Regions from separate parts of the Homo sapiens genome. Here regions 1 and 3 are each linked to region 2. Evidence: fine-mapped expression QTL. A gene starts in region 2. Each other region holds a variant in brackets. All regions are shown on one strand. Distances are from middle to middle.

The links. PIP is the estimated chance that this variant, and not a neighbour inherited with it, causes the effect. A credible set is the group of variants that fine-mapping cannot tell apart.
Region 1: its variant is the best candidate, but not a certain one, in a credible set for the expression of USP43 in liver (GTEx, PIP 0.54).
Region 3: its variant is the best candidate, but not a certain one, in a credible set for the expression of USP43 in NK cells (Schmiedel 2018, PIP 0.61).

The regions. Positions count from the first base shown.
Region 1 is chr17:9,682,432-9,686,687 of GRCh38, forward strand. USP43 (ubiquitin specific peptidase 43) reads left to right here. Exons shown (of 15, transcript NM_153210.5): 7 at 392-527. Among named protein-coding and RNA genes, the nearest start is that of USP43, 39 kb to the left of the region's middle. The variant C/A (reference allele first, on the strand shown) is at 1,684.
Region 2 is chr17:9,642,912-9,647,167 of GRCh38, forward strand. USP43 (ubiquitin specific peptidase 43) reads left to right here and starts at 2,606. Exons shown (of 15, transcript NM_153210.5): 1 at 2,606-3,225. The coding sequence starts at 2,722. CFAP52 (cilia and flagella associated protein 52) reads left to right here. Exons shown (of 14, transcript NM_145054.5): 14 at 112-536. The coding sequence ends at 287. It overlaps LOC124903924 (a long non-coding RNA gene), which reads right to left and starts at 2,516. Exons shown (of 2, transcript XR_007065615.1): 1 at 2,325-2,516; 2 at 919-1,596. It overlaps LOC107985011 (a long non-coding RNA gene), which reads right to left. Exons shown (of 3, transcript XR_001752790.2): 2 at 4,016-4,146; 3 at 3,194-3,806. RefSeq lists a silencer at 2,479-2,538 and enhancers at 2,847-3,494, 4,184-4,256.
Region 3 is chr17:9,581,230-9,585,449 of GRCh38, forward strand. The region is part of intron 1 of CFAP52 (cilia and flagella associated protein 52); the gene reads left to right. Among named protein-coding and RNA genes, the nearest start is that of CFAP52, 6.7 kb to the left of the region's middle. The variant T/C (reference allele first, on the strand shown) is at 2,353.

The DNA.
Region 1 (4,256 bases), 40 kb after region 2:
TGGTGGTGCACATCCACAATCCCAGCTACTGGAGAGGCTGAGACAGGAGAATCATTTGAACCTGGAAGGTAGAGTTTGCAGTGAGCCAAGATTGTGCCACTGTACTCCATCCAGCCTGGGGGACAGAGCGAGACTCTGTCTTAAACAAACAAAAAACTATTGGGTGAACACAATTGCAAATTCACTACCATATTCTTGATGTTCGTATGCCAGGCGTCAGATGGCACAAATGCCATGAACCTCATTATCTCCTCCCCTAAAGCCCTCTAGTGGCCCCCCATTGGTGGTTAATAGATGCTCAAAGAGAAAGAGGGACTAGAGAAGCTAAGGCTCTGACCCAGGAAAGCAGCTCCTTTAGGAATATGAACAAATGTCATTCTCTCCCTTCTAGCTCATCCACTGGGTCTGTCGGCCTCCCCACGCCTGGCAGCCCGTGAGGGCCAGCGATTCTCCCTCTCTCTCCACAGTGAGAGCAAGGTGCTAATCCTCTTCTGTAACTTGGTGGGGTCAGGGCAGCAGGCTAGCAGGTATGTTTCACTTTATTCTTTTTTCATGTGGTGTCTGGGATTTGTAGACCTGTACTTGGGAGCCTGTCTAGAGTAAAATTAAACATTTATTCCCAAGGTTAATAAACTAGGAGCCAGAAGTAGGGTCCTTTCTGATTAAGAGGATTAGAAATATCTGCCTTAAGCATTTGGCTAACGTCATCATTCCTAACCATCAGACATCAGAGGCCTTCCTATTAATCGGAGGAACAATTTTTACTGCCTTCACCACTGTTATTTTATATTGTAAAACCTAGGCGGTGCAGTGCTAAAAGAAACTGGCTATAAGAAAAGAGGTGATAATTTGGTTGTCTGTCCAGAAAACCAAGAACTGGAAAGTGATTGGCAGTAAGGAAAGGGTTCAGGAAATTGATGGGTTATATAACAAATATACAAAAACAGATAGCTTTCTTATATAGCCCAAATAAAGTGTTTAAAAGACAGAATTACATTAAGATATATTTAGATGGATAAAATGTTTCTAAAAATGTATCTTGAATAATAAACTGGTAAAAACAAAAAGATTATTTAATAATAATTAAACTATTATTAATTAGCTCAGCTTTTAAAAATCAATTAGCCCAGCCTTACTTATTGAATAATTCATTAACTCTTAGTAATATGAAATACATCATTTTTATCATGTAATAAATACTTACAGATAGTTGGTCTATTTTGTTTGATTTAATTGCATATTCTTCTGCCTGTATTACAATATTTTAATAATTTCAGAATTATGGTATATTTCATATTACTACAGAGTGAGTGAATTGTTCAAAAGTAAGGCTGGGCTAATTGATTTCTTTGTTGCTTTTTATTTTAAATAGTCAACTTTTTACTCCTGCTATGAATTCACACGTATAAATTTCAGGTTGACTAGAGAGGTAACTAGAGAAAAGGAAGCCATGAAATAACTTAAAGATGGCCGAGGTGGGTGGATCATGAGGTCAGGAGTTCGAGACCATCCTGGCTAACACGGTGAAACCCCATCTCTACTAAAAGTACAAAAAACTATCCAGGTGTGGTGGCACGCACCTGTAGTTCCAGCTACTTGGGAGGCTATGGCAGGAGAATCGCTTGAACCCAGGAGGCAAATGTTGCAGTCGGCCGAGATTGCACCACTGCACTCCAGCCTGGG[C/A]GACAGATCGAGACTGTCTCAAAAAAAAATTAATAAATAAAAAATAAAAAATAAATTAATAAAGACAACATGGGAGAATATTTATGTCCTTGGGTGGGGGCTAGTTTAACATCAAAGTCAGGAGGCTGTAAAGGAAAAGGCTGATGTTTTAAATATATTTAAAAATTTAAACTAAAAGCAAATTTGAAAGGCAAAGGACAAATGAGGAAAGATATTTATGCCATGTGAGAGGTGAAGGATTTATGTCCATCCTCGAATTTTCCAGCTCTTGAAAATTAAGGAGATAAATACCCTTGGTGAAATGAACCACAGAGATGAACATTAGTTCACAGAAGAAATACAAGCATAGGTTAAAATATTCAGCATCAGCTTGGCACGGTGGCTCACGCCTGTAATCCCAGCACTTTGAGAGGCTGAGGCGGGCGGATCACCTGAGGTCAGGAGTTTGAGACCAGCCTGACCAATATGGAGAAACCCCATCCCTACTAAAAATACAAAAGTAGCCGGGCATGGTGGCTCACGCCTGTAATCCCAACTACTCGGGAGGCTGAGGCAGGAGAATTGCTTGAACCCGGGAGGCGGAGGTTGCGGTGAGCCGAGATTGTGCCACTGCACTCCAGCCTGGGCAACAAGAGTGAAACTCCATCTCAAAAAAAAAAAAAAAAAAAAAAATCAGCATCATTTGTAGTGGGAGAAATTCTGGTTGCAATAGCAAGATACTATTCTTAACCTCTTAGATTGTTAAATGATTTTTAGAAATTGATAATACTCATTCTGGGCCAGAGTCCGGGGAATCAGGTAAATTGGTATGGCTTCTTTGGAGGACAGTTTGGGAAGAAAGAGCTTTAGTCTTGTCTTTCTACTTCTGGAACTTTACCCTAAGGGAATAATTGTGCGCTCAAAGGTTATGTCCAAGGTTATATCTAGTTCCTGCGATAAGCAAGCATTGTTTAAATAAAAACTTGGAATGCCTCACAGTACAGGATGGATTAAGTAAACCGATCTGTCCATACAACAATGGACGCACAGTGCCCTTGCCTGTCCAGACAGATCACCTCATATTTGTGTTCTGCTTTAGCCAATTTTATTCAACAATTTCACATTCTTACCTCATTGGGTCTTCACACAGGCTGCAGCGAGGCCAGGAAGCAGTGAGTCGCTAGTGATTTGTCCAGGAGTACCCACGGCAGAGTTAGGGCCCATAGGCGCAGGCTCACCCAGCATTCTGTACACCATGAGCTCACTGCTGTGCGCTTACTATGTTGGGACATGGATACCATCCCAGTGATGAGAATATTCTCGATACCCCAACCAAAGTTGTGTCATCTGGATTTATGTCTCTGCCTTGCCTTCCCCTGGCTCCAAGCTTGTCTTACTCTATTCCCTGCTGTGAGTAAGAGATTTTGCCAGCTAGCTGGTCATTTTGAGTAATCTGTTTACACAGCAGCATCTACCTGGCTTTGTGTCACTGGGCCTCTGCTTACATTGCAGTGTCTCCATTTGTTACAAGGTTCTCTGATTGGCAATTTTGTATTGTGTTTGGCTTTAAAAAGCATTTACATTATTTTTAATCGACACATAATTGTACATATTTATGGGGTACGGAGTGATATTTTGATACATGTACATAGTGTGTAATGATCAAATCAGGGTAATTGGCATAACCGTCACCTCAAACATTTATCATTTCTTTGTGTTGGGAAGATTCAAAATCCTATCCTCTAGCTATTGAAAGCATACAATAAATTATTGTTAACAATAGTCACTCTATATTGCTATAGAACACTAGAGCTTATTTCTCCTATCTAGCTATAATTTTTATTCATTACCTAACCTTTTCCTAGCCCCCACTGGCGCCTCCCAGCCTCTAGTAGAACCACTATTCTACTCTACTTCTGTGACATTAACTTTTTTAGATTCCACATGAGGGAGTACATGCAGTATTTATCTTTCTGTGCCTGACTTATTTCACTTAACATAATGTCCTCCAGCCTCATCCATCTTGCCGCAAACAACAGGATTTCATTTCTTTTTTATGGGTGCATAGTATTCCGTTGTGTATATAGACCACATTTTCTTTTTCATTTCTTTTCCATTCATCCACCGATGTACACTTAGGTTGATTTGGAATCTTGGCTATTGTGAATAGCCCTGCAGTAAACACAGGAGTGCAGAGATCTCTTTGACATGATGATCTTTCCTTTGGATAAATACCCAGTAGTGGGATGGCTGGGTCACATGGTGGTTCTATTTTTAGTTTTTTGAAGAACCTCCATGCTTTTCTCCACGGTGTCTCCATTCCCACCAACAGTGTATAAGAGTTCCCTTTTCTCCATATCCTCACCAGCATTTGTTATTTCTTGTCTTTTTGATAATAGCCATCCTAACTGGGGTAAGATGATATCTCATTGGGGTTTTGACTTGCATTTCCCTGATAATTAGTGATGTTGGGCATTTTTTCATATGCCTGTTGGCTACGTGTGTCATTTTGAGAAATGTCTATTCAGACCCTTTGCCCATTTTTAAATGGGATTCTTTGGTTTTTTTTGCTGTTGAGTTTTTGTGCTTAGCTC
Region 2 (4,256 bases):
ATAAAGACAGATACATGGGGACCATGTTGAAAATGATCCAGTTATTTGAAATCAGGGCTGTTTCTCTCTCTCCTATTGCAGCAATGCCATATACGTGTTTATCTTTTTCAGGTGGAAATGACCATCTGGTCAAAGTTTGGGATTATAATGAGGGTGAAGTGACTCACGTTGGGGTGGGACACAGTGGCAACATCACACGCATCCGCATAAGTCCAGGAAATCAATATATTGTTAGTGTAAGTGCCGATGGAGCCATTTTGCGATGGAAGTACCCATATACCTCCTGAAGCTGATGAGATGTCTCTGAGCCTTGGCGTTGCACGCAGTCCTGTTGAAGACTGAGTTTAGATAACTCCAACACTAGTCTTCATTTCTCACAGCTCTGTTTTTGTTCTTGAGTCAATTTTTCTCTTTTTCTTTATAGAATGCATTTTATATTCTTAAATTGCATATTAAAATTGAAGTATGTTCAAGAATAATTTGTGCAGACTCTAATTAGAACTTTTAACATTTTGAATAAATTCTTAGTTGTTGGTTTTCTGTTATAATTTGTTTTCTGCAACTCTGCAAAACCCACAGACCTTCCTCATGATCTGTGCACAGACAGCATTGCTATTATCCTCTAAAAATAAGGTGAGGTGAATTTCCTTCTTAATTGCCATTTCATTGGTCAAGCTATATGGGACTAGACTCAGATTTAAATCCAGATCTTGGGCAGGCTTCTTAAAAATTCTCTGAGCCACAATTTTCTCTTTTGTCAAGCAAGAGTAAGTTCCTGCTCAAAAGGTTATTGTGAGAATTAAGTGACTAATGTACTAAAGCATCGGCAGAATTCCTGACAGGGTAGAGAGAAATATGCATGCTTTCTCAAAGAAAATGTGTGGTGTTGGGGATCTCAGGACAATTACCAAAGAAAGATGAAATTACAGAGATGCTTTATTGGAGTTGGCCATTACATCTTTCTTCTGTGCTTTCCACCAGAAGGGTGATGAAATGGACCTTGTGTCCTTGTGTATTAATCACCCAGCCGGGTATCTTTTTCCAGAGAGGGGTAAATAATGGCATTTTCCAGAACGCAAGTCTCCGATTCACAGTACCGTCTGATGTTTTAAGCATGTTATTTATCCTTTAAGTAAGGCTGCTTTTTTGCATGAGGTAACTGCTGTAACCCGGTTTGAAAGATCAAGTTTTTTGTTTGTTTGTTTGTTTTTTGAGACGGAATTTAGCTCTTGTCGCAATTTAGCTCTTGTCGCCCGGCTGGAGTGCAATGGCGCGATCTCGGCTCACTGAATCAAGCGATTCTCCTGCCTCAGCCTCCTGAGTAGCTAGGATTACAGGCATGCGCCACCACGCCTGGCTAATTTTGTATTTTTAGTCGAGACGGGGTTTCACCATGTTGGCCAGGCTGGTCTTGAACTCCTGACCTCAGGTGATCCGCCCGTCTCGGCCTCCCAAGGTGCTGGGATTACAGGCGTGAGCCACCGCGCCCGGCCAGGATCAAGAATATTTAATAAATGATGATCACTTATTAAACAACAAGTAACATTTCAGAGCGTTAGAATACTGCATCTCACATGGTGCTGATCTCTTCCTGAGCTAGAAATTGACGAGAAAGTCATTTTGCAAGACCTTGCCTGATTAATTATAAACCTGACAGTTGCATGGGATAAAGTGAGGGGTGGGGGAGGGGCCCAGGGTTACCCAGGGAATCAAGGGCGGGGCAAGGCCAAACTAATTCTGATTGGGCAATCATTCAACAAGGATCGTGCGTTAAGGAGTGAACCAGAAACCGCGTAGGGGGCGCGCCTGAGAGCCTGAAAACTTCCTGGTTAGCAAATACTGAGGCTGGAAAGGGCCTGAACTTGGCAGTCCATAGATCCAGGTCGAGTTCCGGTTTCCCTGCTTACGGATCGGGCGGCCTCCCTACGTTGCGATAACCTCTCTGAGCCCCCTTCCTTGCCGATTAAAGCAAGGGTGATCAAGTCTTGCAAGTTTTTGGAAAATGATTCTAACCCAATCTGTGGTGTAAAAAAGCAAACCACAACCACTCGGGGGCTTTTTTCACAGGGCAACACGTGGCTCCCAGTTCAGGTCCCGGGTTGGCGGGTGCAGGCACAGACTCTGCCTCCCCCCAAGGGGCAGACGGTCTGGAAGGAGGTGGCGACACCTGTCCGCACACACCTGAGCCTGCGGAGGAACCAGCGGTGCACAAAAGCGCTCCCCACCCCCACACAGCGCCCAGCGCGCGCCTCTCACCACGCCCGAGGCTGTGCTCTGGAGATGCCTGCCTTGCCCTTTTCTTCCTGCAGTAGCCAGGCCTTTACCATTTACTAGGCGCTTTCAGAATGTTCATTTCTCCGTAATTTCCACTGCTTGAAGGCTGCTCGAGGAACAGGAGCAGCGGCGAAACCCAGGTCTGTCGGTTTACGAGGTAAGGAAGGGTGGGGAATCCGACCACGAAGACTCCCAGTCAGCGCAGCGGGGGCGGCACCAGGCAGGGGTAGGGGTGGCCCGGCGCTGCCCTGGAGGGGGCTGGTCGTGCCGCCGGATTCCCGCGCGGGGCGGGGCTGCCCCGCCCTTGGCTCCGCCTCCGCCCCGTCCCCGCACACCTGGCCCGCAGGTAGCCGGCACCAGGAGCCTTAGAGAAGCTGTAGGGCCTGCTGGCCGCTCGTCCGCCTCGCGCCCGGGGGCTCCGCGCCTGGAGCTGCGCCGGCGGCAGCCATGGACCTGGGCCCCGGGGACGCGGCAGGAGGGGGACCGCTCGCGCCCCGGCCCCGCCGCCGCCGCTCCCTGCGCCGCCTGTTCAGCCGCTTCCTGCTGGCGCTGGGCAGCCGCTCACGCCCCGGGGACTCACCGCCCCGGCCCCAGCCGGGACACTGTGATGGCGACGGTGAGGGGGGCTTCGCCTGCGCCCCGGGCCCAGTTCCAGCGGCCCCCGGGAGCCCCGGGGAGGAACGCCCGCCCGGACCCCAGCCCCAGCTCCAGCTCCCCGCCGGCGATGGGGCGCGGCCGCCGGGCGCTCAGGGCTTGAAGAACCACGGCAACACCTGTTTCATGAACGCGGTGGTGCAGTGTCTCAGCAACACCGACCTGCTGGCCGAGTTCCTGGCGCTGGGGCGCTACCGGGCGGCTCCGGGCCGCGCCGAGGTCACCGAGCAGCTGGCGGCGCTGGTGCGCGCGCTCTGGACTCGCGAATACACGCCCCAACTTTCCGCGGAGTTCAAGGTAGGCAGCGCTGCGCCGCCGACCGCCCTGTCCCCCTGGTTTCGCCTCTTGAAAAGTGTGTGCACGATCAGGAAAGGGTTTTCTTGGGGCCTTCTTTAAATGCCGTTGACCAGTTCAGCCCCGGATTACCGGCTTTGTTTTGAGTCGATGTGTTACGCTGTCGCTTGCTTATGTTTTCTTTGTAAATTAATTCTCCTAGGTATTTTGAGAGGGAGTGGGGTGAGCTGGCAGATTGAAGGGTAATCAGCGTTTTTGGATTCAACAAGCATTTGTTGAAGTATTGAAGGCTTGTGGGCCAGACAGTGTTCTAATGCCAGCTCTAGAGCTTCCAGTCTGGAATGATGTGGGGTAGGGAATGGGATGTTGAAGGCCAAGGCCTCAGAGGAAGGAGGTGATGCTTGCGTTGAGATCTGAATGATGAGAAGGATGCAGTCAGGGCAAGCTGTAGGACTAATCCAGGCAGGAGGAACAGCAAGTACAATTGCCATAGACCCGAAGGAGCTGAGTGCTGGAGACAGGGAAAGAAAAGCAGTGGCGTTGGAGCTTAGGAGGCAGATGAGTTTCGCCAGATCACGTAAGACCTAGGAGGCAACGGTAAAGAGTTTGGATTTTATTCTAAGCCCAGTGGAATCTGACAACCTACAGGCCAGGTACCGTGCTGAGTGCCCAGCAAAGGCAGTGAGCGTGCTATTTTGGAGATAGCATCCTTTTGTTTAAGGCGCATTCAATCCCCTACAATGTATGAGCACGGGCTTGCATTTTATTGTCTGCAAGATCACGGTCTACTTACTCGGGTTGCTGCCGGGTCGTGAGGCTTTGTAAATTGTTTGTATCACTTCACCCGGGATTAAAACGGGGTGTTTGTTTGGGGTCCCAGTTGGATTAAAGCGTTCCTGATAATTGATGCACATGGCTTGCTTCCTGCAAAAAAAAAAAAAAAAAAAAGAAAAAAAAGAAAAAAAAAGAAGAAGAAACCCGCAGCTCTGGGCAGAGAACTGAAGCTCCCTACAGACTAGTGATTGTTGTTCTTG
Region 3 (4,220 bases), 62 kb before region 2:
TGGCGTGAACCCGGAAGTGCTGGTTGCACAGCATTGTGAATGCACTAAATGCCACTGAATTGTTCACGTTAAAACAGTTAATTTTATGTTATGTGAATTTCACTCCAATAATTTTTAAAATTATATTCCTTTTGTGCAATTTGATACTGTACAATCCTTAAGAAAAATGGAATAGATGTATATAAACTAATGAGGAAAGATGTCAAAGATATATTAAGTATAAAATGCAATTTGCCATACAGTGTATATGATATGAGCCTATTACAGTTTAAAGTGTACATATGTTTGAGAGAGAGAGAGGGGATAGAGAGAGAGGAGAGGGAGGGAGGGACAGAGGGAGACAGAGAGGGAGGGAAAGAAGGCGAGAGAGAGAGAAAATGGAGTGTGTGTGAGTATGTCTGGAGAAGAGAGCAAAGAATATGAATTGTAGTGGACATGCGTAGTTTTGGTTACTCATATCTGAATACTATTCTATTTGAGAAGTATCCCAAGATAGGTAGGAGCTGGTTCTATTGCTTTAGTGAGAGCCTAAAAGAGGCACATATTTTCTCTCCTAATTCCTTGGCAGCCAATTGAGAGATGTAACATAATTGGCTCAGCCAATCAGACATTCCCACTCCGCAGTTCCACTCTTATAGGAGTGATGCAAAGGAGCATTGAGCGTTGAGCAGTGTGGCCATGAGAGGTCTTTAGTTCGTGTCACTTGGTCTCGCCTTGCTATTAGTTCTGCCCATTTTTCAAGTGTGACCCAAACTTCCTGCCAGTTGTGTGAGCAATATGTATTCCTTCCATATAATTCTTTTTCTGCTACATTTAGCCAGAGTTGACTCTTCTAGTTTGCAACCAAGAACCATAATTTTTAAATGCAAAAACAAAAATAAATCTGAAGAAATACACACCTGCATGTTACAAGGTTATCTCTGGGCAGGTTGCACACCTAAGAATAGAGTAGCTGGGTCCTGGGGCATGTGCGCATTCAAGCATCATCAATAAAGACACATTGTTTTCCAAAACGATTAGACCGATTTACTCTCCCACCAAGCATTTTATGAGTGTTGGCTTTGTTCCACATCAACACAGATGCCTGGTACTGTCAGCCATCTTAATTTTAGCCATTTTGGTGGATATGACATGGTATCTCATTTCGGACATAATTTACATTTTCCTGGTTACTTATGAGGTTGCATCTCTTTTTGTAGGTTTATTGGGTTTTGAATTTCCTTCAGCATAAACTGGCTATCCATATCCTTTGCTCATTTTTCTATTGAGAAGCATATGTTTTCCTTATTGCCTTGTAGGAGTTCTTCGTATATTATGGAGATGATCCTTTGTCTATTGTATACATTGAAAATATCTTCTTGTTTGTGTTTTTCTCTTCATCCTTCCAATAACAATGTCTTTAGTAATTAAATTTTTTGATTTTTTGAGAAAGAGTCTCACTCTGTCACCCAGGCTGGAGTGCAGTGGCACAATCTCAGCTCACTGCAACATCCACCTCCCAGGTTTAAGCGATTCTCCTGCCTCAGCCTCTCAAGTAGCTGGGATTATAGGTGTCCACCACTACGCCCAGCTAATTTTTGTATTTTTAGTAGAGACAGGGTTTCGCCATATTGGCTAGGCTGGTCTCAAACTCCCAGCCTCGAGTGATCTGCCTGCCTCGGCCTCCCAAAGTGCTGGGATTACAGGCATGAGCCACCCAGCCCAGCCTAGATGTTTTTCATTTTTCACATAACTGGGTAAATATTTCAGCCTTTTCTTTTATGATTTGCTCTTTTTGTGTCATAGTTGGAAAGTCATTTCTTACTTTTGTACACACTGTCTTGTTTTTCACATTTAGGTCTTTGATCTACCTGGAAGATATTGTTTGTGTAAGGTGTGAATTATGAATCTAAGTTTAATTTTTCCATATGGATAGCCATATGATTGTTTATAAAGAACCTGCAATTAGAAAACTATAAAAAATTTTTAGTAGGAATAGATCACCCTAAAGACATAAACCTTGGTATTATAAGAACATACTGCATAAAAAAGGAACACTCAATTAAAATGAAAAAAAATCATTTATTCAATAATTACATTTGGCCATTTGAGCAAAAATAATCCATTTAGCTACAGGAATCACATAAAGCACCAAAATAAATTCCAGAGGGAGTTAAATATAAAAGAAGCATTCATTTAAGAACAAGAAGATTATATTAATAAATATTTATGAGTCTTTCGATGGAGAAGGAGATAGCAACAAAAAAGTTTTTTAAAAACCCAAGAATAAATGTAATAAGAAATGAGTGAGATCTTTATGAAAAAAATGGAAAATGCTACTAGAAGGCATAAAAGGAGACTTATGAAGAAACA[T/C]ATCCTGTTTTTAAAATAGAGGTATTTTATATTATTATAAAAATCATTTTCCCTTAAGTTAATCTATACATTTAATACTATCTCACTAAAAACACAATCATGAATTTTAAATAGCCAAGGTGACATGCAAGTTTGTATTGTAAAATAAACACGAAGAGCAATCAAAAAAATTCTGACCATAGGTGAGCAATAATGGAGGACCTGGGTCTGTTTCATATTAAAACATATTACAAGGGTTTATAATTGTTGAGATGGTTCTTGGTATAACCAAAATCAAGTTTGGGCCACTTGTCACTTGAAAGCTAAAAACTCAAGAGATGAGCTTTGGTGAAAGGAAGGTTAGCTTTATTGGAGAAGCCAGCAACCCAGGGGAGACAATAAACTAGCGTTCAAAGACCACCTCACCGAGTTGAGTCTCTGAATCAGGGAAATTAGAGGAATAATGATCAAAGCATTTTTGTGAAACATGTGCAGTCTCAGGTAGGCAGTTAGTCAATATGTTGGGGCCTTCTGCAGATGCCATCTGCCCTGTTCTTACCAGGCTGGTCAGCCCATTCCCAGAGTTGTTGGTCATTGTATTTTCTTTTATTTTTGCTGAAGGTCCTGTTCTCCTGAAACTGTTTTTAGTGAATAAACTACCAACTCAAGCAAAACAATAATTACATTCAAGCATACAAACTTTTCTCTAACATGGAAGCAGTAGTGTTACCTTGGCAGATATTTGGAGTACGGGAGTTGCCTGTGGAAAGAGGTGTCACCATGAAAGGTCCCAGGCTCTTCAGAGCACCTGGTGGGCACTCAGAACTGAAACCGAAAGTTAAAAAAATTATTTTCCTGGTTATATTGAGGCATACTTGACATATTAAGGTTGTATCAATTTAAAGTGTATAACACAATGTGTTGATAGACATATACATTGTGAAATGATGTCTACGATCAAACTAATTAACATATTCACTTCACATAGTTACTTTTTGTGTGTGATGAAAACACTTAAGATCAACTCTTTTAGCAGATTAATGCAGTATTTTTTTTTTAATTTATTTGTTCATTTTTTGAGATGGAATTTTGCTCTTGTCAACCAGGCTGGAGTGCAATAGTGTGATCTCGGCTCACTGCAACCTCCGCCTCGTGGGTTCCAGTGATTCTCCTGCCTCAGCCTCCCGAGTAGCTGGGATTACAGGTGCCCACCACCAAGCCCAGCTAATTTTTTGTATTTTTAGTAGAGACCGGGTTTCACCATGTTGGCCAGGCTGGTCTTGAACTCCTGACCTCAGGTGATCCGCCTGCCTCGGCCTCCCAAGTGCTGGGATTACAAGGGTGAGCAACCGTGCCTGGCCACACAATGTAATATTACTTAGCCTTTAAAAAGAAGGAAATCATGCCATTTGTAAAGACATGGATTAACCTGGAGAATATTATGCTTTGTGAAGTAAAATAGGCCAAATTTTTATATTTACCCAACCTTTGCCTGAGGTAGTTGACTCCCATTCTCCCTATGCCTGTGCACTCACCCAAGCAGGCTGCTCACACTCCATGCATTCGTGCTTTTTAGGATTACGAGAATTGGCCGTAGGACTTGCTGGACCAGCATCAGCATCACTTAGGAGCTTATGAGAAATACAGAATCTCAACCCCTTCTCAGACCTGAAATCAGAATCTGCATTTTAACAGGATCCCTCAGGGATTTTTATAAACATCAAAGTTTAAGATGTGATTACTAGATGAACGTTTTTGTCAGTGAAATAAAATTACCTATTTCCCCAACTTCTTTTAGCTGAACTAAGGCTTATTTTTAAAGTGTTGGCCGGGCGCGGTGGCTCACACCTGTAATCCCAGCACTTTGGGAGGCTAAGGTGGACGGATCA